4 separate regions of the Homo sapiens genome follow, and all the other regions are linked to region 3. The links come from fine-mapping of genetic effects on gene expression. A gene starts in region 3. Each other region holds a variant in brackets. All regions are shown on one strand. Distances are from middle to middle. Region 1 has its middle 64 kb from the start of LINC01121. Region 2 has its middle 11 kb from the start of LINC01121. Region 3 holds the start of SIX2 (SIX homeobox 2). Region 4 has its middle 21 kb from the start of SIX3-AS1.

What was found. PIP is the estimated chance that this variant, and not a neighbour inherited with it, causes the effect. A credible set is the group of variants that fine-mapping cannot tell apart.
Region 1: its variant is the best candidate, but not a certain one, in a credible set for the expression of SIX2 in lung (TOPMed, PIP 0.56).
Region 2: its variant is the best candidate, but not a certain one, in a credible set for the expression of SIX2 in cerebellar hemisphere (GTEx, PIP 0.52).
Region 4: its variant is the best candidate, but not a certain one, in a credible set for the expression of SIX2 in pancreatic islets (PISA, PIP 0.75).

The regions. Positions count from the first base shown.
Region 1 is chr2:45,314,927-45,322,764 of GRCh38, forward strand. No RefSeq gene overlaps it. Among named protein-coding and RNA genes, the nearest start is that of LINC01121, 64 kb to the left of the region's middle. The variant G/T (reference allele first, on the strand shown) is at 4,041.
Region 2 is chr2:45,261,656-45,269,493 of GRCh38, forward strand. No RefSeq gene overlaps it. Among named protein-coding and RNA genes, the nearest start is that of LINC01121, 11 kb to the left of the region's middle. The variant T/C (reference allele first, on the strand shown) is at 3,839.
Region 3 is chr2:45,005,150-45,012,987 of GRCh38, forward strand. SIX2 (SIX homeobox 2) reads right to left here and starts at 4,303. Exons shown (of 2, transcript NM_016932.5): 1 at 3,402-4,303; 2 at 33-1,336. The coding sequence starts at 3,961. The coding sequence ends at 1,021. RefSeq lists enhancers at 637-1,180, 1,181-1,724, 2,998-3,771, 4,776-5,375, 7,639-7,838.
Region 4 is chr2:44,959,216-44,966,993 of GRCh38, forward strand. No RefSeq gene overlaps it. Among named protein-coding and RNA genes, the nearest start is that of SIX3-AS1, 21 kb to the left of the region's middle. The variant G/C (reference allele first, on the strand shown) is at 5,726.

The DNA of each region.
Region 1 (7,838 bases), 310 kb after region 3:
AGTTCATCCCTGTTAGAGTCAAGGAAACAGAAGATACAAGGTCAGATGCTGGCAGGTGGGGAGTTGTGGTCTGAAGAGGAAAGAAGGTCATCTGCCAGGAGTAATATGGGGGGAAGGTGTTAGGGGTGTGAAGAGAGAAGGGATGGTGTGAAGTTGTCATCTAGGATAGTGGATGGACTCTGGGACAGAGTGTACGATGACCTGGCAGCAACTACAGGCCTCCTTGAAAATTGTGGGCCTCAATTTAAAGTGAGATCAGTCACGGGCTTGTATTTTTTTTCCACCAACAAGCATGGAGTAAATGGAGAGTTGGATCTAACCATGGTTATGGTTTTGCCAAAACAGTACAACGAAATGAGAGGGACAAGGGTGTCAAAGGGATACACAAGGGAGTGATTATGATAATTGACCATGGAATTTAAGTTGCATTCTAGTAAGAAGGGTTTCCATTTTAGTAAGTGGGAAAATGTGAGGTGTTTTACTTTGCCAAGAGTGAACTGTAGATGGAAAAAGTCTGAGACTCACTGCCTGGAGCCATCATTAACTCGGTGACTCCCTGATGATTTAACGGAGGTGAACTGTCTCCCAAACTTGCTCTCATAATTGGCCGGCGAAGAGATATGATGTAATAGATAAGTCAGCGGTGGAACAGGGAGATTACGAGCTGTCCTGTTTTACCAAACTTGCTGTTACGCTGCCCATGGAGCACCCCATTCGCCCAAAGACACAGTCCTCCCTGCCCCATCAGCAAGCCTGGCCTCACCGGGAGTAGCTCTAGCAATGTGTCTCAGCCAGGCCTTCAAACTCCTCCAACCTGGGCTGAAGGAGCTCTGCCAGGCAGCTGCCTGTCCCTGTCCTCTGGCCTCCCTTCATATGGTTGGCCTTTCCCCACCCAATCTGTTAGTCCTGGGATGGCAGTGTCCACTCAGTTCACAGCCTTTGATTCCCAGAGATTTCTGATTCTCTTCTTCTGGCTTATAGGACCAAGTCCTTGGCTGCTCTGCCCTACTAGTCTTCCCCATTATTATCCCCCATCCAACATCCAAGCGGGGCCTCACCAGCCGGTCTCATTCCTACATATTCAGCCCTGGAACAGCTGACTCAGCCTTCCCCTACCACTGGCAGAGAGTCACTTCTAGGCCTGTGTCCAGAATCATGATGATGATAATAATAACAGTAGTAACTACTACAATGTAACCACTGAGATGAACCAGATCTACTTTGCTTCCTGCTATGCTCATGTTTCCAGAATGCAGCATAGAACCTTACACGTTGGAGGTATTCAGTAAATGTCTGAGGAATAAAGGAATAGATGAGTACCATCTATCAAGTGTTTACTAAGCCCCAGAAAGGGCACCTAAGTCTTGTTCTCATGTTTCCTAATTTAATCCTCTAAACAAACTTTAGCAAGGGATAATACTGTCCTAATTTTATGGGTGAGGAAATTGAGATGCTAAGGAATCATATAGCCAATAAATAACAGAAACAGATGTAAAACCCAGTTCTAGATGTCTTTCAAACCTACTACCCTATACAAATCTATCCTGTGAGTCCCCAAGGTCAGTCTGGCCCCACTAAGAACAGAACAAGAGATTACAAATCAGAGCCCCCTGGGCCAAAGCCCTAAGCAGTCAAGCTACATCTCATGATGTGTTACATAGAAATGGCAAGCCGCTGGCTCCCAGAAATGTTTTGGTTCCCCCTCAGCTCTGGGAAGCCGGGCTCCAATGCGTGACTGCCCAGTCCCCTCAGATAACTCTGGACAGAGGGTACAAGCTGACCATCCAGAGCTTTGGCCAAGAACTCTAGAAATTCCTCCCGCTGGTGACCACCTTCAGCCCCTCCCCTCCGCAGCTGGACCACTGTGCATTCCAGGCAGATGTCTCAGACATGAGGTGGGACTTCAGTGATTTGGCAGGCTGAGTATCTGAAACAGATGAAAAGACTACTAGTCGTCCCCAAACATCCATTCTCTCTTTAATAATAGAACTTCCAATTTTAGATGGGTAAGTTCTGGGAAACAGAATGACACCAGAAGTCATGTGTACTTTTTCTAGATCCGTGGTCCTTAACTAGGGGTGATTTTGCCTCCCAGGAGATATTTTACAATGTCTAGATATATTTGTCATTGTCACCACTGGTATCTAGTGGATAGTGGCCAGAGATGCTGCTAAACACTGACAGTGCACACTAAAGAGAGTTATCTGGCACAAAATGCCAGCAGTGTCAAGGCTGAGAAATTCAATTCTAGATCTTATCCTTAAAAGGAATGCACACGGCCTCCTCTGGTTTTTTCCTCCTCTCCTCCAGGCTACAAGTTGAGGAAAACTGGAGCAATCTCCTTGGACTTAGAAAATGGAAACTAGGCCAGGCGTGGTGGGTCACGCCTGTAATCCCAGCACTTTGGGAGGCTGAGGAGGGTGGATCACGAGGTTAGGAGATCGAGACCAACCTGACCAACATAGTGAAACCCCATCTCTACTAAAATACAAAAAATGAGCTTGGCGTGGTGACACGCACTTGTAGTCCCAGCTACTCAGGAGGCTGAGGCAGGGGAATCCCTTGAACTCAGGAGGCAGAGGTTGCAGTGAGCCAAGATTGCGCCACCGTACTCCAGTCTGGGTGACAAGAGCAAAACTCTGTCTAAAAAAAAAAAAAAGAAAGAAAGCAAGAAAAGAAAATGGAAACTACCTGCTTGGGGATGTCAGAACCACAATAACAGCCTTGGATGACCTACCTCTACTATTACCATGAAAGAGAAATAATCCGCCTTGTATTTTGGGGTCCTTTTGTTATAGTAGCTTAGCCCATACCCCGATATGAGGGATTTTATGAGGCTAAATAGGATTTCAATTTAGCATAATTTAGTATAATTCCTTTTTTTCTATCCTCTTTCTCTCTTACCCTTGCTTTTGGTAACACCCTGTGATGGGCAGAATAATGGCCCCCTAAAATGCCTCTGTCTTAATCTCTGGAACCTGTGAATATGTTAGGTTACATGGCAAGGGGGAATTAAGGTTACAGATGCAATTAAGGTTGCTAATCAGCTGATCTTAAACTACGGAGGGTATCCCGATTACCCAGAATTGCCCACTGCAATCACAAACATCCTTATAAGTGAAAGGGGGAGGCAAGAGAGGCAGAATCAAAGTGACGCAGCATGAGAAGGACTCAACTGGCCATTGCTGGTTTTGAAGATGAAAGGGAGCCACAAGCCAAGGAATGCAGGGAGCCTCTAGAAGCTGGAAAAGGCAAGAAAACGGCTTCTCCCCTGGAGCCTCCAGAAGGAACCAGTCCTGCAGTCACCTTGACTTTAGCCCAAAGAGACCCCTTTAGGACTTCTAACCTTCAGAACTGAAGGATAATCAAGTTATATCATTTTAAGCACCAAGTAGTGTGGTGATTTGTTACAGCAGCCAGAGAAAAAGAATATTCATTGCCTTCTTTCTTTCTCCTTCCTCTCTCCTCTATCTCTCTTTTCAATCTAGCTTCTGGGGATCTAATCATTTTCTATGAAAGTATGAGCCACTGTGTAGGACAGGCCAAGGCCATAGTTTGCCTATGTCTGGAGTCTCCTGGAAAGCCCTCACCAGCAGGATAGCCTGTGCACCTGCACATGGAAACAGCAGCCATGCTAATCTGGAGCATGAGTTCGGTCCAGCAACTCATGAATTTGACTCTAATTTCTTTCATGATATGTTTTCAGAAACACAGATTTCATCAACATCCAAGATCCTGCAGTAAGGAGCCCAGGCTGCTCTTTATGAATCCCAGGTCATCACTACGTGGTCTGCTTTCCCAAAGGTGCTCTGCCCAAAGCCAAAGGGACCAGTAGGCAACAGCCATGTTAACTGTAGGCGGAATTAGCCAGCCCTGTAATTCCAAAGTGTTTAGCTTTGGAGCACAAAAAGTTAAACACCTTCTTGCAACACATTGTAAACATGTCAGTGTGTTTAACATGTTAACCATGCTCTGTTCTCCTGCCCATGTGTTTAGAAAAGAAACAGGTTATGATGTTTAACTAGTGAATAGATGTATGC[G/T]CTCATAGCGGCTAACACTTTCTAAACACTTGTGGATGCTTAAAATTATGATGTGTTTAAGATTCAAACACATTTGCTTTTCTACACTCTTAATCCAATGAGTGCTGGCTGCATTTTTTTTTTTTCTAATTGCGAGGGTTTGTCCACCTTGCAAAGGCCAGTCTGCCATGATGAGTTCCAAGAGCTGTCAATTGGCCTTTTTTTTAAAATTAGCATTTTCTTTGATACACGAATCCCCTTCTCAAGGAAAGGAATAACTAGAAGAGTGTAAATAATGGTCATTCTCTAGAGGATGTTGAGAGTCCTATTCTGTTAGAGAATTTAAAGGGTTTTACTGGCATCAGCTGCAAGGCTTTACCAATTTCACCATATGGTTCAGAAAATGAAAACCAAAGAGGCTCCAAATCCTGCAAAGGCGACACAGAAGTGTATGGAGGAACTGGGGATAATACCAGGCCTCCAGGTGCTGCCCAGGCCTCTGTTTACTTGTCCTCTCTACCCAGTCTCCTCAAACCAGCAGCTGGAAAAGGCATTAAACACTGCCTCCCGCTTCCAAGCGTGGGCTCACCATTTGCAGTCATACAGAGGGTTGTTTGGGGGTGGTTGTCCATCCAGTCCCCTCTGTCGTGCTGTAACCTTTCTACCCTACACCTCCATACTCTTTTGCCTGATGATGCCAGTAATATTCTCTCCAATCTCCTTTATCTACTCTGTGTCTGCCCACTTCTCCATGCCCCCTTCTGACCACAGCCCCTCCTGTAAGTGGCCTCGAAATGGCCTCTCTCTCTGCCATCAGACACCCTCTCTAACCAACCTTATTTCTTGCCAATGTCTCCTTTCCCCTGTAGGTTCCAGCCACCCTGGCCTTCTTTTAAGCTATTTCCTGCCTCAGGGCATTTCAATACGCTGCGAGAAAACCAATCTTTCCTTGGTTCTTGTCAACTAGCTGTTTTAAACAACAATGCCTCAGGAAAGCTTTGCCTGACTATCCCACAACCCCCTCCAGCCCAGGTCATATCCCCATTTTCTATCCCGGCACTTTTTGCTTCTACCCTTAGAGCACTTAATTACCATTTATTTAGGTTTGCCTTCCCCCACTAGGCTAAATTTCCAATGAGGGCAGGGTCTAAGGCAGTCTTGTTCACTGTTGTATCCTGGGCACCCAATGCCTGACACGTAGTTAGCACCTAATGAATGTTTGTTGAATGGCCAATGGGACTTCCAGCTATCCAGTCAATCTTGGGGTAGTGGAAAGAAAGATTGCATTATGAGTTGGGGGCTGTGAGTGTTGTTTCCCACCTGGTGCAAGCTGTTTAATTTCTCTGACTCTCGGTCTCTCTGCATGCCAGATGGGGAACTGGCTCAACTCAGCAAATGTTTATCAAGCTGGCCCCATGTATAAGGATGCTGATAGGCTCTCTCAGTGCCTGCAGAGATGAAAAACACAGTCCTGGCCCTCAAGGGGCTTGTCGTTTAGTGTGTAAGATTAAGGGGCCAGGAGCGGTGGCTCACACCTGTAATCCCAGCACTTCAAGAGGCCGAGGCAAGCTGATCACGAGGTCAGGAGATCGAGACCATCCTGGCTAACGCAGTGAAACCTTGTCTCTACTAAAAATACAAAAATTAGCCAGGTGTGGCGGCAGGTGCCTGTAATACCACCTATTCGGGAGGCTGAGGCAGGAGAATGGCGTGAACCCAGAAGGCAGAGCTTGCAGTGAGCCGAGATTGCGCCACTGCACTCCAGCCTGGGTGACAGAGCAAGACTCTGTCTGAAAAAAAAAAAAAAAAAGAAAAAAGATTAAGGCTTCAACATAAGTAACCACAATACAAGGCAAACTTGTTTTTTGTTTTTAGTATATGTCTTCATTTATTTCATTATGCCATTAATTATCTCCCTGCAATATTTTGTAGTTTTTAGTGTACAGATCTTTTACCTCTTTTTCAGCTTTATTCCTAAGTATTTGATATTTTCTAATGATATTTTAAATTGCACTATTCATAATTCTAATGTCCAATGATTCACTGTAGATACATAAACATACAATTAATTTGTATATGTTGATCTTGCATCCTGCAACCTTGTTAAACTTAGTGATTAGTTGTAAAATTTCTTTCTTTTAACTTTTAGGTTCAGGGGTACACGTGCAGGTCTGTTATGTAGGTAAGCTTGCGTCACAGGGGTTTGTCATACAGATTAGTTCATCACCCAGGTATTAAGCCCAGTACCCATTAGTTATTTTTCCTGATCCTCTCCCTCCTCCCACCTACAGGACAAATTTGACAATGCTCCAAGATCATTTGAAAGGACTAGGGAATGCATAGAAGAAAGAACCTACCTCCAAGTAACATACTGAGAAGGCTTTATAGGGGGAGGGACACCTGGGCAAACTTAGAACAGGCAGGACTTCAGCAAGCCAGAATGAGAGGGAATCCTTTCACTAATGCAGTGACATTAAAGACACAGAGATGGAGAAGCCTGAGAGAGGCTTGAGGAGCACCTAGGACCCAATGTAGCTGCCATGTAGGTTACAGAGGAGGAGATGAAACTGCAAAGGTTGATTGGAGACACATCAGGAGGTTTTGAAATGCCACTCAGGAGTTTGGAATAAACTATGCTGTAGGAGCTACTGGAGGACTGTGGGCAGGAGAGTGACCAATGAGAGCTACGCTTTAGGGTGGTTAATCCAACTTCCAGGACAAGAGGGATGATGTGTTAAGAGGCACCTGCAGTTATTCAGGAGAGAAGGGAGAAAGCAGATGGCAGTGAGAAAAGCAGCAAGACGGGGAGGCTGAGCTCAAGGAGCTATCGAAGACAGAAGCAGCAGGACTGAGGAGCTGGCCAGATGAGCAGGCCAAGGGGAATGCCAGCGAGGATGCCAGCAGGCCAGCGAGGATGCCAAGGGTGCAAGCTTGGACCATCAGGAACAAGATGGGATAACGAACAAAAACACAGGCCACCGGAGTAAGAGAAGCGGGTGGGGAAACACATAGCATATTTCAGACACGCTTACTGCAAGGCCCTGGTGAAGCCGTCAGGTGAAAACACTTGTAGGCAATGGGAAATGCAGGTCTTAAAACCAGAATGTGGATTAACACTTCCCAGCCTGGCCACAGGGCTACTGGGAAAATCAAAGGAGATGGTGAAACAGAAGATACGTTGGGATCTACAAGTCACCATGTACACGTAAGGCATGACAATTTGTATTTTTATTACTGCTCCAAAATACATCTTAAATATCTCAGAAGCTGGGGATTGGTCTCTCTCTAATCTCTAATCTTAGAGATTAGAAACCTGAAGTTATTCCCTGAGTGTTAAAACCAACCCATAAAGGAGTAGAATGGAGGTCCTTGTAAGACAGAATGGCTTCGGGCCCAGCAGATAGTGGCAAAGATGCTGAACCATCCCTGTGGACACGGGAAAGGGAGAAACATGGGGCATGACTGATGCTCACCCGAGTACTGTCTAGGTGCACAGAGGCAGGAGCACTTCCCTCTCTGGAATACCTACCTGTCACCACACAGGTCCTCATACCTAGGTGCAGAGACACACGTACGTACATATTCCCAATGCCTGGATTCTACCCCCTGAGATGCAGGCTGGCCTTCTGGTTTACACAGCAGCCTGTGCCTGTGCGAGTTTGGTTAATGTGAGTTATGCCATTCATGGCAAGCAAGGCTGAGCACTAGACTTCACACCAATGATTTGCCAAGTGAATGCCACTTGGTGGGTGCTTAAGGCACTTTAAGGAGACAAATGATCCTGGGCTTTCAAAACAATATTTTTTAAATACTTAACAC
Region 2 (7,838 bases), 260 kb after region 3:
TGAAGCTGCAGGGGCTGGCCTGTGCTGGTGGGTAGCTGGCATCCTCATCTGCTGAAGGCTCCCGGCTCGGAGCCTTTGCTTACTTCATTTATGATTCTCAGGAACTGACAGAGAAGCGCATACCTGGAATTTCTGTGCTGATAGCAGGCCTGATGCTCCCATCCCTACTCCCCCACCCACCACCTCGGGTGAGCCAGAAGCACACTTAGAATTTGACAGGCTGTCGTGGCCTCCCACTTAATTATATTGTCACAAAAGCTTTCAGGGATTCCAAGGAGAGAACCCTCTTCAGGGAACTTGATTCTCCTTCCGAAGCATGCACTGGCTCTGTATAGCCCTCCCCTTACCACCCTGGGCTTTCCCTCTGAAAGCTCCAGAGACAGTTCAGCAAGTGCTCAGCAAGTGCCAGATTGGTATTGGAAGGGTGTCACAGGAAGTGGGTGGTGAGAGGGAGGCTCCTTCAGCTGTGTTCCCTCACACTCTTCTCTCCCAGTCATTCAAAGCTCAAGTCTTCATTTTCTGGGGCCTGTCAATGATGGAGGTGGAGAAGCCACCATTACTGAAGTTCTAGAGAGAGCCCAAGAAGCGCTGGAGGTTCAGAGAGGTGAAGAGCCCCCTGCAGCTGGCCAGCAAGGCTTAGGTCTGTCCTATCCACTGACTGCAGCATCCTGCTGTTATTAATAATCAGGACCTAAAACTCTTCCATCCATATGGCTCCCTGCTGTTGGGAAGGTATTTTCACATATGGCATATTATGGAAACTGCTCAAGAAGGCTACAGTTCTCCCAAAAAGTCTTCTTAGTTAGCAGTAGGGTTCGTTTTCTCACCTTTTCTTAAATCTCAAATTGTGAAAAAAGAAGGCTCCGCATACGCTGTCTCCATTTCATGACTTGCACATCTCCTTCCACATTGAGTGGAGCTGCTTTCAGTACAATGACCACTAATGTTGCGGTTCTAATCCTGGGACCCTTCCTGAGTCCTCACTGGCTCTGCTGTATTTGTTCCTGTCACCCACCAGCTTCCAATTCACCTCCACCTCCTCCCAGGCCATCTTTTCCTAGTCCACCTCCTCCCAGTTTACCCCCTCCCAATCCACCATCTCCTCCTCCCTGTCCACCTCCACCTCCTCTCAGTTCACCTCTGCCTCCTCCCAGCTCACCTTCTCCTCCTCCCAGTCCACCCTCACCTCTTCCGAGTCCACCTTTTCCTCCTCCTAGTCTACCTCCTCCCAATTCACCTCCTCTCAATCCACCTTCTCCTCCCAATCCACCTCAACCTCCTCCCCGTCCATCTTCTCCTCCCAGTCCACCTCCCACTCTGCCTCATCTTCCTGATCCACCACACCATACAGCTGTTTCAGGGCTCCAACCTGAATCCACCTTCGATTTGAAAACATTGCTGAATAACTGCAGCGGCCCCTTAAACAAATGTCATTATCCAAAGACAACAGACAACAACATACCTATGTAGAGATAAACATATGTGTGTTCTGTCTCCAAATCATTTTCAATAAATGTTGCCACAACACAGCTCAGCTATGTAGACGGTTTTTCAATCAATATTGCCTCAGGCTAGCAAATAAAGAAGGAAATCACTGGGAAATGCATTATTCATGAGCTCACCAGAGCGCTGATGACTGGCAGTGATAAAGGTCCCCGTGTGAGCAAGCAGCAGTCTGATAGCTCTGTATCAAGTCAATCTACCCAGCCTGCTTCCTGTTTTCGGGAGCAGGAGAGGGGAGATCAGTCCTCAACACTTTTCTCTTCCCTTTCATTTAGGAGAGTGGGCCCGTGCACCTGTGGGAACTGAACTTGTCTTTTGCTGAGGTCATGACACGTGGGGAACAGGATGGAGCAGAGGAAGGAGAGAACTGAATTCCCTCAGGGGACACCCTGATGAGAATTAATTAGAGGTCTGTCCTTGGTAGCTCTTCACCTCATACCTTCTAGTGAGCAAGAAAGAATCTCTCTCCACTTTTGAGAATTCTAATCGGCAAAGGGAAGTAATCACAGGACATTCATCCATATAGAGCCTTTTTCTGGTGGAAAGCCTGAGCATAGAGCAAGTTCGGGATGCCCTGCACCCCTTATCAATTAGCTTTCCTAGCAGAGACATGAATGAGGAAGGGGAGAGGGAGGGCTTCTGGGGCAGGGAATCCTGGGCTTACCCATGGATCCTCCACCGGCTCATTAAGTTACCTCGGACAAGGTGCTCCCCTGTACCTGGGCTTCTGAGTGCTCCCCTCCCGTTTTAAGTAAAAAGTCAGGAGCCCACAGCATCCAGAAAAGCGACCCAAATTTCTTTTGAAGTGTTGCATGAGCTAGAGTGGGAGAGAAAGGGAAAACTGAGGGGTAAGAAAAAATTGTCATGTTCAAATTAAATTTCAAATCATTAACAATACACGCTCATGCATAACTCATATGCACCTGAGAAATGCATTATGTAAATGAACCCAAAGTTCCAAAGAGCACCAGTTCACACACTACCACACATGCAGGGGTTGTGAAACCCAGGGCTGTACCCGTAGAAGACACGAAGATTACAGAAAGAATGGTACCATGGGGTCACTTCCAGCCCTGCTAAAACAGCTATGGCCATAAGTTGTTGAGCTTCCAGAGGAAGGTAAGAGCCAGTTGTCTGATGTTATTTGTTGCAGGCCCCCACTCCACTGTCTGCTGGACTCCAGGCGGGTTGTGTGGCTGGTATATCTGGATAGCAGGGCCCATGTCAGAGATCAAGGGATGCAGTTCCAAAGGAAGGGGGTTGGGCAGAACAAGGTCCAAGGGTCCAGTCCCCCACTTCCCAGGTGGAAGGGAGCCAAGGTAATATCATCACCTCTCAGTCCTGGCCAGACAGGGGTCTGTGAAAAGGAAAATAAAATCTCGGGACCCTAAACTCACTATGCCAAAGGGAAGAGTTAAACTTGGGAACTGGGTCATGCAAAAACTGCCTTCCTTGTGTTCCCAAACAGATAGCTGTAATCTCACATGCTACTTTATCGCATGTAAAGCGTAGATTCACTGAGCCAGCGAGGAATGCATAATCGACTTTCCCCCACTCCCTTCTTTTCAGGTGTAAAATGTAGATTCACTGAGCTGATCAGCACCTCACAGGAATGTAACCACTTGCCTCATTGCCTACTCACTCTCCTTTTTTGTTGTCTTTTTTCTTCCCCTTCCACTTGCTCTGTCCCCTTTATATATTGAGGTTCACAAAACCCTCTTTGGAAAAAGCACAGGACACAGACACCAACTACTGTGACTTGTGTTTCTTTTTCTCAGGCGTGTCCCTAACCTTGGCAAAATAAACCTCTAAATCCACTGAGATCTGCCTCCATCACTTTGTGGTTGACAGGTCACAGATGAGCGTGCAGGGTGAGTCAGAAGGTTCATGAGACAGAGCATGGGACAGCAATGCTCGGTCGTCATTCGGCCAAGAGACAGTGAATCTGCACAACCAACAAGGCCCCTCTTCCATAAGTCACACCACTTCTGTGAAAAGTCTGAGTTACAGATGTCTTTCTTTTTCATATTGCTTTGATATTTTCATATACACATAGGGCTTTGAATGAGGTTAACAAAGATTGACAAGTGGAAATCTTGTGGTTCCACTTCCCAAATAGAAAAAGATCATTGCTTATCATTGGCATAGTGGATACATTCAAGCATGTGTTCCTCAAGTGTGTGACAATTGTTCTTTTAATTGAGCTACCTTTCCTCCTGCAATCTTATTCATATGATGGCAGTTGCCTGAAGGAAAGGCTTGCAGCAATCTCAAGCACACAGAACTATGTTAATACCCATTGGGCAGCGACAAGAACAGCTGGGGATGAATACAA[T/C]CGGCCCTCTGTATCTGGGATTCCACAACCATGGATTCAACCAACCTTGGATGGAAAATGTTTGAAACACAAAAAGGATGCTTGTGTCTGTACTAAACACGGACAGGCTTTTTCTCTTACAATTATTCTCTAAACACCACAGTATAACAACTAGTCACATGGCATTCACATTGTATTAGGTATTGTAAGTAACCTAGAGATGATTTAAAGTATACAGGAAGATGCGTGCAGGTTACATGCAAATATTACCCCATATTATATCAGGAACTTCAGCATCTGTGGATTTTGGTATCTGAAGGGGGTCTTGGAAGCAATCACCCACGGATACTAAGGGACAACTGTAACTTTCTTTTTTTTTTTTTGAGATGGAATCTCACTCTGTCACCCAGGCTGCAGTGCAGTGGTGTGATCTTAGCTCACTGCAACCTCCATCTCCCAGGTTCAAGAGATTCTCCTGCCTCCGCCTCCAAAGTAGCTGGGATTACAGGTGCCCACCATCACTTCCTGCTGATTTTTGTGTTTTTAGTGGAGACGGGGTTTCACCATGTAGGCCGGGCCAGTCTCTAACTCCTGACCTCAAGTGATCCACCGGCTTCGGCCTCCCAAAGTGTTGGGATTACAGGCGTGAGCCACTGCAGACAACTGTAACGTTCACAAAGCTTGTACACTGTACTCTTTGGAAGCCCTTTAGCTTCCTGCACAGATGCCACATCTAAAAGCCAGAGCCAGGCAGCGAGAAGGACTGGCAGCAGTAATACATTGCCAGCCGGCCAAGAAAGTGCTACGGAAGCAGTTCTGCTATCTGTTTTCTTTCTGGGTCATGAATTTGGGTCCATTTAGCATGGGGTGGAAAACAACAATAACACAACAACAATAAAAACCCTCTCCTTCCCTGAATCGTCCCAGGGTGTGTCCTATGTCACAAAAGAGCACCTTAAAAATCATCTGGTCTAGTGCTTCCCAAACTGGGGTTTCCCAGAACACTTTTTCTAAGAGAGGTTAATAGGTAGGCTGTTCTCACGGTTAAATTAGTTTGGGAAACATGCAGTCTACCTCCCATATATTCATAATGCTTATTGTAATATTGAAGATACTGAGAGGTATTGCAGTCAATTAACCTTCACTTTGATTTTTTCAGCATCTAACAAATTTATCCATTTTCTCCTTTTAGCACAGTCAATAAAATACTGTAGAATGAAGTTATTTTGGTTAAATCCATATCTGCTCCCGCCCATCCTCCCTCTTCCCCTAACTTTGTTGTTCCCACCCACACATAACTTTACCAAAATTTTTTTTTTTTTTGAGACAGAGTCTCACTCTGTCACCCAGGCTGGAGTGCAGTGGTGCAATCTCAGTTCACTGCAACCTCCGCCTCCCAGGTTCAAGCGATTCTCGTGGCTCAAAGTTGTGTGCGGTCATGCCCGGCTATTTTTTGTATTTTTAGTTGAGACAGGTTTTCTCCATGTTGGCCAGGCTGGTCTGGAACTCCTGGCCTCAAGTGATCCACCTGCCTCGGCCTCCCAAAGTGCTGGGATTACAGGCATGAGCTACCGCGCCTGGCCACTTTACCAAGATCTTAAAAAGTTTAGGCGAATGTCCAGATGAAGCTCTCAGAACACCTGCTTGAAGAAGGCAGCTTGTTGGATGTGGCTGATGGCTTTACTGACCCTAATCCTTCTCTCTTCCCCATGTCCACGCCCTTTACTGTATACTTTTGCAGTTCCTTTTCCCACACCTTTGACACTGAGTTTGGTCATGTGACTTGGTTTGACCAATAGAAATGACAGTGCACCAGTTCCCAGTCAGGTTCTCAAGGGGCCTCTGTGATTCCTCCTGCTGTCCTCCGCCTGTGCTATTGCTGTGAGAACATGCCCAGTTAGCCTGCTGAAGGATGAGAGACATGTGGAGCAGATCCGAGCCACGCCCATCACCCCAGACAAGGCCAGCCCAGATCAGCCATGGCCAGCCAACCACCAGACGCGTTGAGTGAGTCCAGCCAAGCCAAAGTGCCTAGCCAACTCCCCACTGACCCCAGAGGCGTGAGCAGTAAACCTTGATTGTTGCATGCCCTTCAGGTTTTGTGTTTGCTTTTCATGCATCATGCGGCATTATTGAGGCAGTAGATCACTGGGTAAGAGAAAGAACATGGGCTTTGCAGCTGGTTATGTTAGATTCAAATCCTAGCTCCACTCTCTGTCAGCTGTGTGTACCTGAGCAAGTGATGCAACTTCTCTTAGCTTTAGCTTCCTCATCTTGAACAAAGATAACCTTAGAGCATGATTATCAGGATTAACGGAGATCATGTAGGAAAGCTCCTAAAATAGTGCCTGGCACGTGGTAGGTAATCAGTGAATGTTACTTCTTTTGTGTGGAATCCTTTAACTGAGTGCACAGAATTTTTACCTAAGGCTAAGTACTTTGGCATCTTCATTCATAGATTTGAATGGTCTGGAGTCAGAGCTCACCAAGATTTCCCAGGCATAGGGGCCATCCTGATGTACACACTATTTAGCAGCCTGCTTATATCACTTAGTGATACCGCACAAACTTCTTTCCACAGTTCCAATTTCTGTATCAACAGTCTCCTACCTCATTTTCAAAGGCCACAAAGTAGCCCTTGGCGGAAACATGCTATCATTTATTTTACCATTTGGGATGTTTCCATCAATTTTTTTCCCAGCCAAATAAGGAGTAAATATATATGAAACACCAAGATAGATAAAACAATGTAACTGTAAAATAGCACGTAATGAACAAAAGAAGAGCAGAGAAAGACATTCAAAAGAATGTGTAATCAGTGAACATTTGTCTCTGCAACAATTCTCTTAAAGAGGCACAAGTAATTTATTTTTTTCAAACTGTCTATCCTGAATGAATAAAATAAAAGCTTTGTTGTCTAAAGGAAAAAGCATCAGTGTTCTGAGAAATTTTACTTCTGAGGTGCATCAAAGCCATATAATTCAAATTTGCCTGCAATCTCTTAAAAAAGAGAGGACAAAGATAAAGCCCAACATTTCCAGACGTCAAGGATTCGAATTCGCGAGATTGATGGTCATAATCCCCACCCCTCTGAACCTAGTTCTATTTCTGGTCCTCTCGATGTATAAGACAAACAACTGGGAACTTTCCACGCTGGGCTCCAGAGAAAAGTATCTGCCTTTCTCCAAAGCCCTATGTGAGCTCACAGTCCCCTCAAAATGCCATTTTCCCCATTTCAGGTCCTTCCAGTGGAAAAAGTGGGTAAGTCTGACACAGCCACTGCCAGCTAGTCCTCGGGGCAGCCATACACCATTAGCAGATCCCTCGCTCCTAAAGGAAGTCATGCCGGCCTACAGTGGAACTCCATTTCCAGTTATTACTGCTAGACAAATGGCTTTTAAATTACATCCTAAAAGGCTCACAGGCCATTTGTCTTTGTAAGTAATGGCACAGAAATGCTGCATTACTGCCATCCTCACCCTGCAAAGGGGGTCTGCCTTACTAGGGGGATTGTAGGAAGGTGGATAAGAAAGAGACCCAGGAGGCAGAAATACCCAAGGTAGGGGCAGAAACACCCAAGATTTGATGCAGAAAAGTTGCCAGCTTTTCTGGAGCTGATGGGAGCACGCACACTGGCAAGACCTCTGAGAAGAAAATAGAGGTGGCTTTTCCTGGAAGCTGCCTACATCAACAGAGAGAACTGGGGTGGAACTTCCTGGGTGGGAAAGGGGAGCAGGTATAGAGCAGCACCAGAGTGTTATCCAGAGATAAAGCTGGATGGTGGCCATGACCCAGCCTTGACCACCAGGCTAGAGAGTCTGGATTTCACCCTAAAAGATGGAAACTTATGAGCAATTGGACTTCCCAAGGAAGTGGCCAGATGCCTGGCCCATGGCCAGAGACTGGCTGTGACTCTGAGCTCAGCCCCTGGAGCTCCAGGACTCTCTCCTCACCTTCCTTGGGAGATCTTAAAAGCCAGGAGCTGCTACTTCTACGGGGCTAGGCGTTAGCTCTGTGACAT
Region 3 (7,838 bases):
TCAGACACAGCTGCACTCCCGGCCCGCGGGCCTTGTGGCATATAACCATTTATATATTTATGATTTCTAATTTTATTATAAAATAAAAGCAGAAATATTTCCCGAAGAACATTCACATGAGGGCATTACGGGGAGACGGCAAGTCGGCGGCTCGGGGGGCGCGCTCAGCCGGGAGCGCTGTAGTCACAGTCCCGGGAGGAAGAGCGCGGTGTGGCGGGGCCTCGCCAAGAGAGAAGGAGGAGGGGCGTATGACGAGGCGGCGTTTAGGGGCTTCTGTGGCGCTGCCCTTTCTCTCTCACTTAAGTTACTAGACGAAAAGCTGACACCTGCAGCTCCCACTGACCCACATGGGCGAGGGAAAAGGCCTCAGGAGATGGCCTAGGTTCAAAGTCCCTGTATTTTCTCTCCTCTTCCCTCTCCCACCCCCTACTCCGGTAAAGCGAGGGCCAGAGGTAGGGGCAGATAGACCACCAGTCAGGAGGAGAAAGACAGGGGTACATACGGAGGGACCAGGACACAGAGTACAAGAGACTGGCAGGAGAGAAGAGAGGAGAAACAGAGAAGGAGAGAGAAAGGGAGAGACAGAAGGAGAGAATGAACGGTGGCAAGCTAGAAATCTAGAAGGAAAGCAATACAAGGAGAGGGAGAAAGACAGAAAGCAGAAAAAAGAAAAGAGAAGGAAGGGAAAGGAAGAGGAAAGGGGGAAAAGGCAAGACAAGAGAGGGTAAAAGGAAGAGACAGAGGGAGAGAGAGAATGACAGTGGTGTATAATTTATTCCCTTCTGTGGTTCAAGACTCAGTCTCCAGCCCCAAAAGGATCCTAAAAGTAACTTGTTGAAAATAAATCCCAAACAAGAACCAACATAGACAGCTATCTGCCCTACCCGGCTGTTCTACCCGCTCAGCCTGCGGGTCTTTCAGTACCTGGTGGGGCCGCAGGGGCGGGGCGCCCCTGGACACCGCCACTCCACGTCCCCAGTGTCAAGTCACAAAAGGCAAGCTCATCAAGGCAAATGGGTTCTAGGAGCCCAGGTCCACGAGGTTGGCTGACATGGGGTTGAGGATGGAGTCCTGCAGGCCATGGTGGTGTTGCAGTGGGTCCGCTCCACCTCCGCCTGGCACCGGCACTGGCACTGCGCTGGGGCCCGGAGGGTGGCCCAGGCTGTGCAGGGACGGCAGCCCAGGGGGCGGCGGGCTGAGGAGCAGTGCGGGGCTGGATGATGAGTGGTCTGGCGTCCCCGATGGAGTCTTCTCATCCTCCGAGCTGCCTAACACCGACTTGCCGCTGCCATTCAGCGGGTTGTGGCTGTTAGAATTGGAGTTCTCGTTGTTCTCCCTGCAAGTGCGGGAGCAAAGCAGCGGGGTCAGCAGGGACATCGAGACCACCCAGCGCCATCTCAGTCACAGTCAGAGCCAGCCACCAGCCTCGGGAGACAGATCCCGGGCTTGTGGCCTGCGGGTGTTTTCGGTTTCTACCATTTCCTCGACCTGGTCTGGGTTCTCCTTTCTGCCCGTTCTCTCCATCTCTCAACACCCAATTTCTCTTGCCCCTCTGCCCTTATCGTCCCCACCTCTCATGCTGTCAATCTCATCAATATCTTTTCTATATTTCCTCTTTCCCCCCTTCCCCAATATTTCTTTTCAGGAACAGAGGTGCAGGAGAACAGGGTTCCCTGAAGTTGTGGGGTGAGCCGGGAGGAAGAGACGATGCCTGGATTTTCAGATCACTCTAGGCTCCACAAGCCAGGTTTGCTGGGTAGATGTGGGGCTAGCAGGTTAAGGAACCCTGGATCCCAGGTCAAGGGATTTAGGGCCTCTCACAAGACTTCATTTCCCTTTGCTTTTTCTGCCCGAGGGAGACCCCTGGCTGGGAGACAGGCTCCTGGGGCTAAGCGTCCTTTCCCTGTAGCTCCAAACTGGGCAGCCCTGTGAGGGCTCTCCTTGCTGGGCCTAGAGACAAGGGTCCAAGGATGGAGGACTCCCTTTCCGTGGTGGTACAGTGAAAACGTCAGCTCGGAGACCAGAAGCTTGGGGGATAAAGGGCAGCCCCTGGGAGAAGGCCGAGGCTTTTCCATTGTAACCAGCCACTCCGGGAATCTGCAGCTCTCATCTGGGGCCTGGTCTGAGAACCCAGGTTTTCAGGAGTCTGATCACATGCCGGTTTGGGTGGAGGGGGACCCAGCAGAGAGAACCCACCTCCTTCTATGCCTTTGACTGACAGCTCCTCCCCAGATTTGGATATTTAAAATCCTGGGTAGGATCTCTTGTCACCAGCTTCGGGAGGGTTTTTCTTTCTGCTTTCCTGGGAGGGAGCTTCCCACAGGGCTGGCAGCTGAGACCTCACCACTGTGGAAACTCCAACCTCAGGGTCTCAGATACCTGGAAGTATCTGAGCCTGCAGCACTCCCCCTAAGATGTTTCTGGTTCAGCACCCTCACCTCTGACCCTGATCATTCAAACTCAGGGTGGAACACACCCCATATCACCAACCCCAGGTGTCCTGTTTTGCTCTTACCCCGGGCTGGATTCTGTTCCCATAATAAGTTTCTCTCCAGGTTTGAGGTCCTGAGGGGTTATAGGGCAGGCAGTGGCAAGGGCCTAATGATCAACCTTTAGGCTGGTTCAGGAAGTCCTGGTTTACCTGAGGACATCCAACTCCCAGCCCCTCTGTGCCTCTCAGCTCACCGCAGACATTCCGACCTACCCATCAGAGGTAGGGCCTAAGGAGAGAGGCATCAAGGGCCTGGAGTGCCAGGGAAGGGCGGCTATCTCTAGCAAGGCAGAAAACAGGGCATGCGTCTCTTCTCTCCCAGAACTGACACTTCCTCCCTTTCACCTCTGGATCCTTTCTAAGGAGATAAAGGACCCGCTCTCAACTCCATGTGACAACGAAAATTCATGGCCTGGCTTTTCCCCATCCAGGTCATTCTAGGGAAGTTCCAGCCCCAGTCCCGACCCCATCACACTTTGGCCTGGAGCTAAGGCTGGGGGGAAATGCCGGGAAGCACCACCAGCAAGAAATCTGCAAATCCCCTTTCATCTGGGCTCAAACCCCTCTGTCCTGAGGATGACCAGACCTACTGTGCCTGCCTCACAGGGGATACAGGCCCACAGTTCTGCGCTGCCCCGAAGCTCTCTGCTTCTCCACCCTTTTCCTCTAGCGACCGAGTAGTTAGTTGACAACTTCCTGAATTGCTCTGCCCGCTTTAGACAAATCCCTGCTCGCCGGGTCTCCGGCATAGAAAGGCCTAAGCATCGTCCAAGTCAGGCCGGGCTGCCGCTGGGCTGTGGCCGGGCCTGGGGGCCCAGTTTAGGCCTCTCCGGGGGACCGGCAGAAGCCCTGCGAACCCCTCCCTTGGGCCCCGGGGAGCTGGCGCCGAAGAAGGTCTACTTACTCGTACCTTTCCTTGGCCTCGGCCGCCCGGTCGCGCTGCCGCCGGTTCTTGAACCAGTTGCTGACCTGTGTGGTGGTGAGGCCCGTGGCCTCCGCCAGCTCACGCTTCTCGCGGGGTGAAGGGTAGGGGTTGTGCGCGTACCACTCGCGCAGCACGCTGCGACTCTTTTCCTTGAAGCAGTAGCTGGTCTCCTCGCCGTCCCAGATGGAGCGCGGCAGCGGGAATTTGCGGCGCACGCGGTATTTGCCCACGGCGCCCAGGGGTCGGCCGCGCAGCTTCTCCGCCTCGATGTAGTGTGCCTTGAGCCACAGCTGCTGCAGCTTGGCGTGGTTGTGCGGCGAGAACTGGTGGCTCTCCAGGATCTTGTAGAGCTCGCGGAAGTTGCCGCGGTGGAAGGCCACCACGGCCTTGGCCTTGAGCACGCTTTCATTCTTGTGAAGGTGCTCGCAGGCGGGCAGCGACCACAGGAAGCGGCCCAGCCGCTCGATGTTGCCGCCCTGCTGCAGCACCTCGCACACGCACGCCACTTGCTCCTGCGTGAAGCCGAAGGTGGGCAGCATGGACATGGTGCCGGCTGCGTCCCCGCCCGCCCGCGCGCGCCCTCACCGGGCCGCGCGGTCCCGCATGGGAGCTTCCTCGCCGGGCCGTCCGGGCCGAGACGCGGGCGGGGCTGGCCCCCTGGCCCGGCACTGGCCCCCGGTGAGCCCCGAGTCACTGCCGTACGTCCCCGCGCCGGCCGCGGGTCCCACGAAGCTCCGAACCCCAACGGCCCGCGCGCCTGGCCCAAGCCCTCGCCCAAGCCCGGGGGCCGCCCGGGGCGCCGCTCCGCATGCTCCGCGCCCGCCCGCCGTTCCCTCGCTCGCTTCTCACTCGTTCTCCCTCCCGTCTAGCTGGCTCTCAGCTTTCTTAATAATATTATTCTAAGCGGGCATGAGGCGCGGCGGCCCGCGCCCTGATTGGTCCGGTTATCTGACCCGGGGCCTGCCAGCGCCAGACAATAGTCGGAGTCAAATTATTCGCCATGGAGACGCTGTCAGTCACTGGTAACCCGAGCCTCGGCGGGCCGGGCGGCTCCCCCCGGCCGGCTCCGCTGACAGATCGCCCCGCTCCGCGCAGAACTGAGGGCGGCTCTACTGGAGCCTGGGGCGCTCTGAGAGCCTGGGAGGCGGAGAGGGGCCGGGTTGGGGCCGGCGGCGGCGGAGATTGACGGGGCGGATGCCCAAAGAGGGAGGGAGGAGGAGGACAGGAGAGCGGGGGGAGCGGGCGAAGACGAAAAGGGGTGGATCGAGGTGGGGAGAGAAGAGGAGAGAAGGGAAGGCGGAGACCGTTTAAGGGGGTGTCCAGGAGGAAGGGGAGGGAGAGGGGTGGAAGGAGACTCCAGGGGAAGAAAGTTTGGGCAGCTTTGGCTAGGAGAGGGCTCTGCAGCCTCGCCCAGACCCTACAGGGTTCCCCTTCTCCCCAGGTCACCGCGTCCCTCCCAGGCTCTCTGTTCACCGGGCACATTCTACCCCGGCGCAGGCCAGTGGGATGGGAGAGTTTGGACGTGCTCGGGTGCCGCCCAAAGACTTGGCTTTTTCTGCTGACAGCGCCCCACCCCCATCCTAGAAACTCTGGACTCAGCGGTCCTCGAGGGAAAAGGGGAGGGAGTAGACGAAAGAAATGGGGAAGATTTGGCAGTGGCCGCAGGCGGACGCCGGAGAATCGACTTCCCGGAGGATCCCGCCTTTCCTCCCTCTCCTAGCCCCGCCGGCTGCCTGGCGGCCTGTACCGCCCCAACTCTGCGCTCTCTGCTCCTCGCCGGGCGGGGACTCAGACTTAACCCCACGGGTCCCACAGCCCGAGGAGCGCCAGGCAGTTCCGTGTGGCCTCTATGGAAGCTGACTCCGGCCGGCAGCTGCGACGCAGAACCCCGGACGGCGCAGACCCGCAGTCTGCCCACCGGGGCGGGGGAGAGGGGCGACGGCAGGGACTCTAGGACGGTGGTGGGGCTTCCCCGGTGGGTGGTCGGGGAGGAGAACGGAGGCAAGATTCCCAGTCCTCCCGCTTCGCCGCTGGGGATCGGCTCGGCTCCTGGCCACTCCAGCCTGGGAACCGGCTCGCTGAGCTCCGGGATGAGGTGCTTTAAAAGGGGGTCCTGTTTTTTGCTTCTTTGTCAGGGTGCCAATGGAAACATGTGGTGCTGGTCCTGTGGGAGAAGGGCTCGCACAAAGGTGGGAGAACTGAGGATGGGTGTGTTCTTGCTCTACGTTTTGAAAAGCCCGGGGCTTAGCTCCTTCCCGGACATGTCCTTTCCACTTCCTTCAGTTTCCTCCTCTTCCCCCCTCAGCTGCTGCAGGCCAGGAGCTCCTAGGGCCATACTCAGTGCCTGACCCAAGCCAGCACAAATCCTGGGCTCTGCCCTCAGCCAGTCTAGGGCTATGGAACCCGAGTCTAGGCCAGTTCCTTCTTTCCCACCCTTTTATGCTTTCTATGGAGTTTGTGCTAGGAGCGCGGAATGGGAGTCTAGAGCCCTGGGTTCAACTTTTGGTTTTGCTTGGTGTCTATGGTAAGGCATATATTTATGCCTTTGTGTTTATTTCCTTCTCTGCAAGATTTCAAAAATTTTCCCTGTGCTGCAGCATTCCGGAAGTCCTTTGGGAGTGTTGTAGGCATGAGAGAATGGAACCCTGGGACTCCTCTTAAGACTTTAGCTTCCAGGGGCCTACCCTGGCATGTTGAATGAGGCCACAGGGCTGACAAAGTAGGTCCCAAGCCAGTGCGGGTGCAGAAAGGGGAAGCTTTCTGCAGAAATCCAGGTGGCATCTTTAGAGTCTGTATCTGTGGGCTGGGAGGAGGTCTGCTGTGTCCAGGCCACCCTATCCAGAGTCCTATGCACTGCTGCACAGGGGCTGCCCCAGAGTTGGATCTAAGGACCCTGGGAGACATGGAGAAGAATTTACCGCAGACTGTGATGAGGTTCAAAGCCCAATTTGCTGACCTCCAACAAAAGTGCAACGTACTCTTTTCAGCACGTCTCCTTCAGCTACGTGGTTAAAAGGATTCACCTGGCTGGCTGGTCCCAGCCCTGGCAATGGCCATCTTACATCTTAGCGTGCTTAGGCTGGGGCTGCAGAGGAGCACCCTGGTCTGGTGTGGGTGAGTGAGACCAGGCAGTCACTTCCTGGTATGAGACCCTGGGCCAGTCCCCAGTCTGCTCTTCATTCTCTTCCACTATTAGATTGAAGCCTGGGTAATCTCTCAAGTTCCTGCTGGTTCTGGGATGGGGTGGGTCTAAGAACACTAACCCTGAAAAAGCATACAATCTCTGCAACCTCAGCCACAGCCTTCACCATGAATGTGCCACTCCTCTGACCCATGAAGCTTTAAGATTAAACTTCCCCCAGGACTGGGTCCCGCCTATGTTCAGTGAAAGCAGATTTTTCTGGAGCTTCAGACTCACTGTTCCTCCAAGTGCTGCCCTCTTTGCAGCCCCTGGGCCCTAAGCCCATGAATCAGACCTGCCAGGAGCCTCCAGGCAACACTAAGCAGCACAGAGAGAACAGAACAGACATGGGGCCTGCCACCGTGGATAACATACTGTGTGCCATATGAAAAGTCATTACAGAGGAAGCACTGAAAACCTGGAGCACCGTTACCCGATGTATGGGTGTGTGTCAATATGCCCCTCATTCTCCTCCTCCCCCATGTATGTAGAAAACTGGTTCCAGCACATCTGGGCCAGAACCTCTTGGTAGCAGCAGTAGCTGGGTTACATGCTGAATGAGGGTCTCCTCACACTCCTTAGCCCCTTCCCTGCCTGGCCCATTCCCCGATAGTCTTTGCCACAGAACAGAATACTTGGGAGGTGTCTGGATGAGGATTTAATAGCCAGCCTGAGCCAATGACAATCTCAGCCCCCTAGTTGCAGTGCCCAGAGCAATTGCTGAGAGGCCTACGGGGTGCCGAAACTTTTGGTTCTACCTCACTCCAATCTCCGGAATCCCTGTCCTCCTTCCTGTCCAAAGACCCATTCCCAAGAGGCTTGTGCTTGCTTTTTATCCAGCAAAAACGGGAGAAACTCCATGGCTAGGGGGAGAAACCTTTTCGGAACCATGGAAATTTGAGCTTTACTGAAACACCTCCTTTCACCTCCAAGCTTCCCTGAAGTCCCTGGGAGGATGAGACTTTCTGGAAAGCAGCAGCAGGGGTGGGTGGGTGCTCCCCAGTGATCTCAGGCTGATGGAATAGCTTTGTCCCAGACGAATTGTCAGGGACAGTTTGGGGTCTTTGTGCCTGGAGTTGGGCAGGAAGCGCCCAGGACAGAGCCAGAAGGCACCTACTGTCCGGCGCCCATTGGGCAGCCCAGGGCTGGCACACCGCGCCCAGCGGGTGCACTTCTGGGCAAAGGAAGAAGTCAGCCCACTGGCCTCCCGAGGGCTTCCCTGGTTTTGGGATGGGGCCGTT
Region 4 (7,778 bases), 46 kb before region 3:
CCTCAGGTGGTGGGGGAAGTGACAGTGCAGAAAATGGTGCCCTCATGGAGCTATCCTGGCCAGCAGAGAGCCCCAGACCACATTCTGCCTGGCTTTACTGTGATTGCAGTGCATGGCTTATTTCTCCTGCTAGACAGGGTATGGGGCTGTGTTAAATGCACCTTTTGTATTGCCCACAGCACCTAACACAAAGCCAGACTCTGTTGATTGGATGGGTGAGTGAATGAAAAAGTACCATAGGCTTAAAAACCAGGCAGTGCCGGGTGCGGTGGCTCATGCCTGTAATCCCAGCACTTTGGGAGGCCGAGGTGGGCGGATCACGAGGTCAGGAGATGGAGACCATCCTGGCTAAAATGGTGAAACCCTGTCTCTCCTAAAAATACAAAAAAATTAGCCGGGCGTGGTGGCATGTGCCTATAGTCCCAGCTACTTGGGAAGTTGAGGCAGGAGAATCGCTTGAACTCAGGAGTTGGAGGTTGCAGTGAGCCAAGATCGTGCCACTGCACTCCAGCCTGGGCGACAGAGTGAGACTCCATCTCAAAAACAAAACAAAACAAAACAAAAAAACAGGCATTACCAGCCTGCCACAGAATATGCCTAGAGAAATCTACAGGTGACCCTGATGGGGCATGCAGAACCCAGAGCCGTGGAAATCACCTAAAAGGAGGGGACCACCTAAAAGGAGGGGACAGGAGAGCATCTGAGCAGACTGTCTGTTGCCTGGAGCAACAGGAGGACTCTCTGGGGTCAGCTGAAAGGGAAGCAGTCAGGGGACTTGCAAGGGGGGAGTACCACTCGGGCAAGGGCAGGAGAATAACAGGCGGTGCCCTGGAGGAACACTGCATGCTGCTGAGGAAGGAGGGCGGCCTTGGCGATGATGTCACCATGAAGCACTTGGAATTGAGACAGAACATTCTCACTTGGGGTCAGTTTGTACCCTCGTACTGAAAGTTACTCCCTGGTGCTATCTGTACTCATCATATTTTGACACACTTTAGAGTAACCCTTCCATCTCTCCCTGCTTCTTTTTGAATTTAAACATCAAGCATTTGAACACAAGTCTTCATGTCCATTTATCTCAGTGTAAAGAGGAACAACTGGGCTGGGCGTGGTGGCTCATGCCCTCTCTTGGTACTTGATATAGTCAGTTGCCTGACTGCAAACCCAGGCCTACCCTGGGTAGAAAGAAAAGGGAGTTGTGACAGTTGCCAGGAAGATTTCTCTGTGGAAGCAGCTGGTGTTTTTCTGAGTGGAAACTTTGTGGAGGGAACTAGCATTTAATTAAAAAACAGGCTGGGCGCAGTGCCTTACACCTGTAATCCCAGCACTTTGGGAGGCCGAGGCGGGTGGATCACTTGAGGTCAGGAATTCGAGACCAGCCTGGCCAGTATGGCGAAACCCCATCTCCAATAAAAATACAAAAAATTAGCCAGGTTTAGTGGCCGGCACCTGTAATCCCAGCTACTTAGGAGGCTGAGGCAGGAGAATTGCTTGAACCTGGGAGGCGGAGGTTGCAGTGAGCCAAGATCGGGCCACTGCACTATAGCCTGGGCAACAGAGTGAGACTCCATCTCAAAAAAAAAAAAAAAAGGAATAACTGATGGGATCACGTTGACTTTCCCATTCTCTCCTCATAGACATGTGCTCAACAACTGCCTCTAGAGAGGAAGCAGGCCTGGTGGTGGCAGCTGTGGAGTAGGGACACGGTGGCTGGGATGGGGGTGGAGTTAGGGAGTGGGAAGCCGGGGGTCTATCTCCTGCCCATGGGCTTTTCCTATCTAGCCACATGGTAGATGAGCCCGTGCTCCTGGCCAGTTCTGCCCTCCTTGCCTCCATTTCATTTCAGGATTCCTGGCCACTCTCTCTGGTTGCCAGCCCAGCACCAAGCCTCCCAGACATTGATTCTCTGCTGCTCTGTGGCATAGAAGACTACAGTGATGGGCTCTGCAGACTTCACCTTGGAGTCCCCCTTTCATCCCTGCTCATTAGTCTCCTCCTCGGTTGTTTGGTTGAATGTTTCCTAATGCCAAGGGGTAGGGGCAACGTATGATATCTTCACTTTTTTACATCTCAGCATGACCCTGGCTTCCCCTCCTTCCTCCTTCCTGCTGCCTTGCCTTTTTACCCATCTACCTCCTGCTCACAGGATGGACACTGCCTTGTCCCTAGCAGCTCCAGCAGCTCCCTTCTCCAAATGCCCCCCTTCTCTAGGTGGCCCTTTCCGTCATGTCCTGGCCTTTGGATGTTGGTTCCCATAATGCAGATGAGAAGGTGGAGGCAGAGAGAGGGGAAGAAGCCGGCCAAGGCTGAACACTGAAGCACCCTCAGGGCCAAGGCAGGCATTCTCCTGCTGGATCGAAGGGCCCCTGGGAGACCCAGGATGCCCATGAAGAAGGTTCCCATCCCTGGGGCCCTGCTAAAGCTTCCCAGTGGGGGCCACATGTCTCCCACACTTCTAGGGCAGTGTTTCCCAAACTTACCTGACCATGAGGGGCACCTGAGGCTCTTGTCAAACGGTCACAGTTCTGAGTCCTTATTGCATTGGAATCCCCAGGTGCTGGAGGTGATTCTTATGAATAGGCAGGATGGGAAAATACTGCCTGATGGCCTTGTTCCTCAGTGCAAGGGTGAGGGAGGGGTCCTAGCAGCGCTAGTACCTCTTGGGGACTCGTTAGAAACGCATTTTAGAGTTTGAGACCAGCCTGGCCAACGTGGTGAAACTCTGTCTCTACTAAAAATACAAAAATTACCAGCATGGTGGTGCTGGCCTGTAGTCCCAGCTACTTGGGAGACTGAGGCAGGAGAATTGCTTGAACCTGGGAAGCAGAGGCTGCAGTGAGCCAAGATTGTGCCACTGCACTCCAGCCTGGGTGATGACTCCATCTCAAAAAAAAAAGAAAAAGAAAAAAGAAAAAGAAAAATGCATTTTAACAAGATCCCAGGTGTTTTGTAGGCACAGGGGTGTCTCTGGGTTGGAAATTCTTCAAGGTGACACCTTGTGTCAGGGAGAAATGCAGGCCTTGTAACCTTGGTCCTGTCATTTCAGCAATCTGAGCTCTGGTCTTGCTCCTCTGTGAACTGGTGGTGACAACAGCTGGGCACTGGTTGTGATGACCAGATTGGATGTGGGGCTGGAAACATATCACCAAGTTTAGAAATGTGGTCTGCCCCTGGTGTCTGGCCCTTGTCCTTGGCAGCTGCTCATTTCACTGTGGCCACCCCAGGACTCCCTATCCCATCTGTCTTCTCACAGGTGCTGCCCTCCCTGCCAGCCCCGGCCGCAGTGGGGCTCTTCGACTCTTGCAGGTAAACTCTTGAGAAGATGGCCAGCCTCTGGGGGGGGTCTCCGCCTTGGCCACAACCACAGCCCCTCCTTCCTACCCCCACCTCTGGTCATGGAAACCAGACGCCCCAGTCACTCAATGGACAGATGCTGAAGAACTTGGAGAATAATCACAGACAGAGCCCCCTTCCCAGAGGGACAGACCCATTGCCAAGGCCTCAGCCCAGAGGGACTGTGCTGGTCCCAGAAACAGCCCACATAGAAATGGTTTGGACGATTGGCTGGCCTTGTAAGGGTGGCTGGACGGGGGCCAGCTGGTAAAACATCGCGGTGGTGAGGAAAGGTGCCTGGAGCTAATGTGTATAGATAGGAGTATCATTGTGCCACCGGGCCAGGCATTCCCCACCCAGCTGACCTGATTATGGATGGAGGACAAGATGCTGCTGCTGCCAGCTTCCCCAGACCCCCAGACCATGCAGCACTTCCTGGCCTCAGACAGTTCCTCCTCTATGAAGATTTGTCCAATCAGAGCAGCCACAGGCTGCCCCAGCCTCTCTGTATTCACATCCTGGACCTTCCTGGCCTGACACCCTCAATTTTATACTGCATCTTGTTTGCTTCCATAAATGTCATCCTGTGTGTCAGATCACATGTCCCCCTTTTTTTGGTCTCAGAAAATAAGATTGTTATATTTACATTACTTCATTGAGTTTTATTTTGTGGAAGGCAGAGGGAGAGCGTAAGTAATGAGTTTGTTGTGTCTTGCTTTCCAACCCATTGTAGATTTCCTATTTTTTCTTTCCTGTTGTAAATGTTAATCAATCAATCTACAATCATGTATAATAATAATGCTTATACTTTCGGTTAGTGGCTCTGAGTTCTACTGACTTAAGTCCCATACACCCACCAGCCTGGAATTCCTTCCAGTGGGGCTACCCCACAGCTTTCTGGGGCACAGCCTTGCTTTCTCTCACAGTCTGGTCACTGTTGAAAAAAGCCGACATTGTCTTCTTGATTCAAATAGGCCTTCTGGAAAACATTATTCTGAACAATCTCACAAAGATCTATAAAGAGTTTTCTTTCTTTCTTTCTTTTTCTTTCCTTCTTTCTTTCTCTTTCTTTCTTTCTTTCTTTCTTTCTTTCTTTCTTTCTTTCTTTCTTTCTTTCTTTCTTTCTTTCTTTCTTTCTTTCTTTCTTTCTTTTCTGAGTTGGATTATCTTTCTGTCACCCAGGCTGGAGTGCAGTGGCATGATCTTGGCTTACTGCAACCTCCACTTCCCGGGTTAAAGTGATCCTCCTGCCTCAGCCTCCCAAGTAGCTGGGACTAGTGTGCCCACCACCATGCCTGGCTAATTTCTGTATTTTTAGTAGAGATGGGGTTTCATCATGTTGGCCAGACTAGTCTTGAACTCCTGGCCTTAAGTAATTCACCCGCTTCAGCCTCCCAAAGTGCTGGAATTACAGGCATGAGCCACCGCACCCAGCCAAGTGTTTTCAAAAATTGTGAACCAAACACCCAGCACCTTAAAGTATGTGAGAAGTTTAACATTCCACAATTAGACCACTTGATCTCCACAAGGGGGATACTGTGATCCCAGGAGAGCCTTGCCCGGGAAGCCTGGATTGTTCTAAAGCTTGGAAGTGACATCCCAGGTCCACACTGTAGGTTTCCTCTCAGCTCTGGGTCTGGGGGCCTTTGTCATGGCTGCAACTTGCAGAGAGGTGTCTTAGGACTGGGATGCCGCTGGCTGAGGCCCTCTTGAGGGTCCTTTTTCCCTTTCTACAGCCACATATTGGATTCTCTTATCGGAGCTTGGCAAGCTCTTCCCAGGGGATTTGCTGTTCCTGGCTACTTCCTCTCTTCCTCCTCTCCCCTTCCTTCTTAAGTCCCCACCCTCTTCATCTTCCTCTTTTCCCTTCTTCTCCCTTTTCTTTTCTTTCTTTTTTTGAGATGGAGTCTCGCTCTGTCGCCCAGGCTGGAGTGCAGTGGCATGATCTCGGCTCACTGCAACCTCCACCTCCTGGGTTTGAATGATTTTCCTGCCTCAGTCTCCTGAGTAGCTGGGATTATGGGCACACACCACCAGGCCCAGTTAATTTTTTTTTTTTTTTTTTTTTTTAGTAGAGATGGGATTTCACCATGTTGGCCAGGCTGGTCTCAAACTCCTGACCTCAGGTGATCCACCCACGTCGGCCTCCCAAAGTGTTGGGATTACAGGCATGAGCCACCAAACCTGGTGTTCTTCCCCCTTTTCTTGCCCTTCCCTCATCTGCCTTTCTGGACAGCCCCGCCCAGTGTTCCCTCTCCCTGGGGTCTGTGTTCCGTGTGACAGCCCCCTGCAGGTGGAGGAGCCAGCTCCCCATGTCCTTGCCTCCCCAGTGCTCCAGCCTCCCTGCCTGGCTCAGCCGCCTCGGCAGATGCAGGCACCCCCTGCATTGTTT[G/C]CTGTCCTGAAGACGAGCAGCTGCCGCACTAATTGCCACCAGCAGGGGGGCCGGGCTGTGCTCGCACTCCTCCTGCCGATTAGGGGGCGACAGGGGGGCGGTGGGGGGGGGGGCAGTTTTCAGGAGCCGAATGAGCTGAGCCAGTGTTGAGCATTATTCCAGGAATTTTAAACACTCGTTAAAGGCTTTGCCATGTCTCACTTCAGTACACATCATGCTCCAGTTACTGCTGGGAACTGCGGGGGCATCAGCCCGGGCAGCACTTATCAATATTTTAGCACGAGAAAGGCAAATGATGTTGAAACATTGAACTATATTTCCATCTGTTCAAACTGAAATGGAACAAGCTTAGCTCAGGAAATGGAATCTCTCCTCCCCAGCTGCCTTGGAAGCAGCAATACCCACTGGCCTGGCCTTGGCCCTTGCCTCAGTTTCCCCTTCACCTCTCTTCTCGATTAGTCCCCAGTGTTCATAGCTTATGGGCATGATATTGAGCAGGTGTTAGGTTTGTGGGTAGAGCAGGAGTGGTGGCACCTCAAAGAACCTGAGAGGGACCCCCGTTCTTGTTAAAACGTGCCTTCCCCATTGACTGACAGAGAACAGTGGGGTCAAATGCGGTCTGTCTTAGTGCCAGGGGACATCCTCTCCATCCCCTGCACGGGCCTGTTTCAGTGTCTCTGGACTGTCCGTCCTGCAGGAAGACCCAGGATGGCTGGCTGGATGTGAAAAGGAAAGCACTGACCATATACAGGTGGACGAACACCGTAAATACCACACACAAATAAAGCATTTATGGTAGAACCCTGTTTCCCCTGGAACAAAACAGAATTTATTGGCAGGAAAGAAACTTAAGAAATATTGGCATTCAGTTGTCTGGGAAGAACAGAGAAGTTTCTACAGTGTGGAAAGCAGGGTGGCTGATGTGGGTGGAGATGAGTCATCTCATGTGATTTAGGGGAGAGCCCATGGGATGTCTCCTCCAGCAGGGCCCCCAAAAGGCCTGTGGTTAACAGTATTCAAGGAAGAAGGAACCCTTTTGTCCCCAGCCCTAAAGCAGAATGGGGGATTGCTTCTTCCCATTTCCCCTCAGACTGTCTTTTGGCAACCTCTCCCTTTGAGGCTGTTCAGTTTAATTTGGTTCATCTGCAGGGAAATAGGGGTGGGGTGGGTGAAGGGCATGTGGTAAGAGATGGGCCCAGAGCCTGCATTCCCCAAGACTCACCCTGCTAAGAGGGGTCCTGGGGACTGGTGTGGGGTATATACTTTTTGTTTCTGGCATCAACTGAAGAATAATTGCAAGACATTCGTCACCCAGGCCCCCATGCAGGCAGCTAGGCTGGTGACAACTTGCCTTTTGGGGAAGGGGTTTCCACTGTGACAACTGTAGCAGCAGCAGAGAGGCTCTTGTCTGTCACAGGAGATCGAGGGCTGCAAAAGCCCGAGAACCCACTGATTTCATCCCTCTCTCTTTTTGCAGACAAGGCCACCTACATCCCAAGCCAGCTGGAGGAGCAGCTTCCAGTCTTCAGAGATGGGCCCCTCTTCTTCAGTTGGCCTTGGTAGTCAGGACAGAGGACAGAGGGATATATTGTAACATATATTGTAAAATTTGAGCCACATACACGGGATAAATGACAACGCAAATAATCATCTCCGAAAAGAAATCTGACATCCGACGACTTAGAGGCCAGAGCCATTGCTGACGCTCCTGGGGAGGAACATTCTTTGCAAGCATTTGTGCCTCAGTGAGGGTGGTGGGGAGCCAGCAAAGTGCTGGGCTCTGCAGAAATCTAGGGGGCTGCCTGGGTGATGTACAAATGCAGACCTATTACATCAATAGAAAAATGTAATGTGTTCATTACTATCAAGGCGGAGTGCTTTTTAAATTCACCATTTCTGAAAGACTCAGGATTAATGTCAAACTGTATGAAAAGACCCAGCCTTTCACCTTTCTTTCTCTTGACCATAGAATGCGGGTCTAGTAGGGGGAGAGCAAAGGGGGCACTTTAGAAGAATTGTGAAGCAAGCACAGACAGGGTCACAGAGAGCCCTG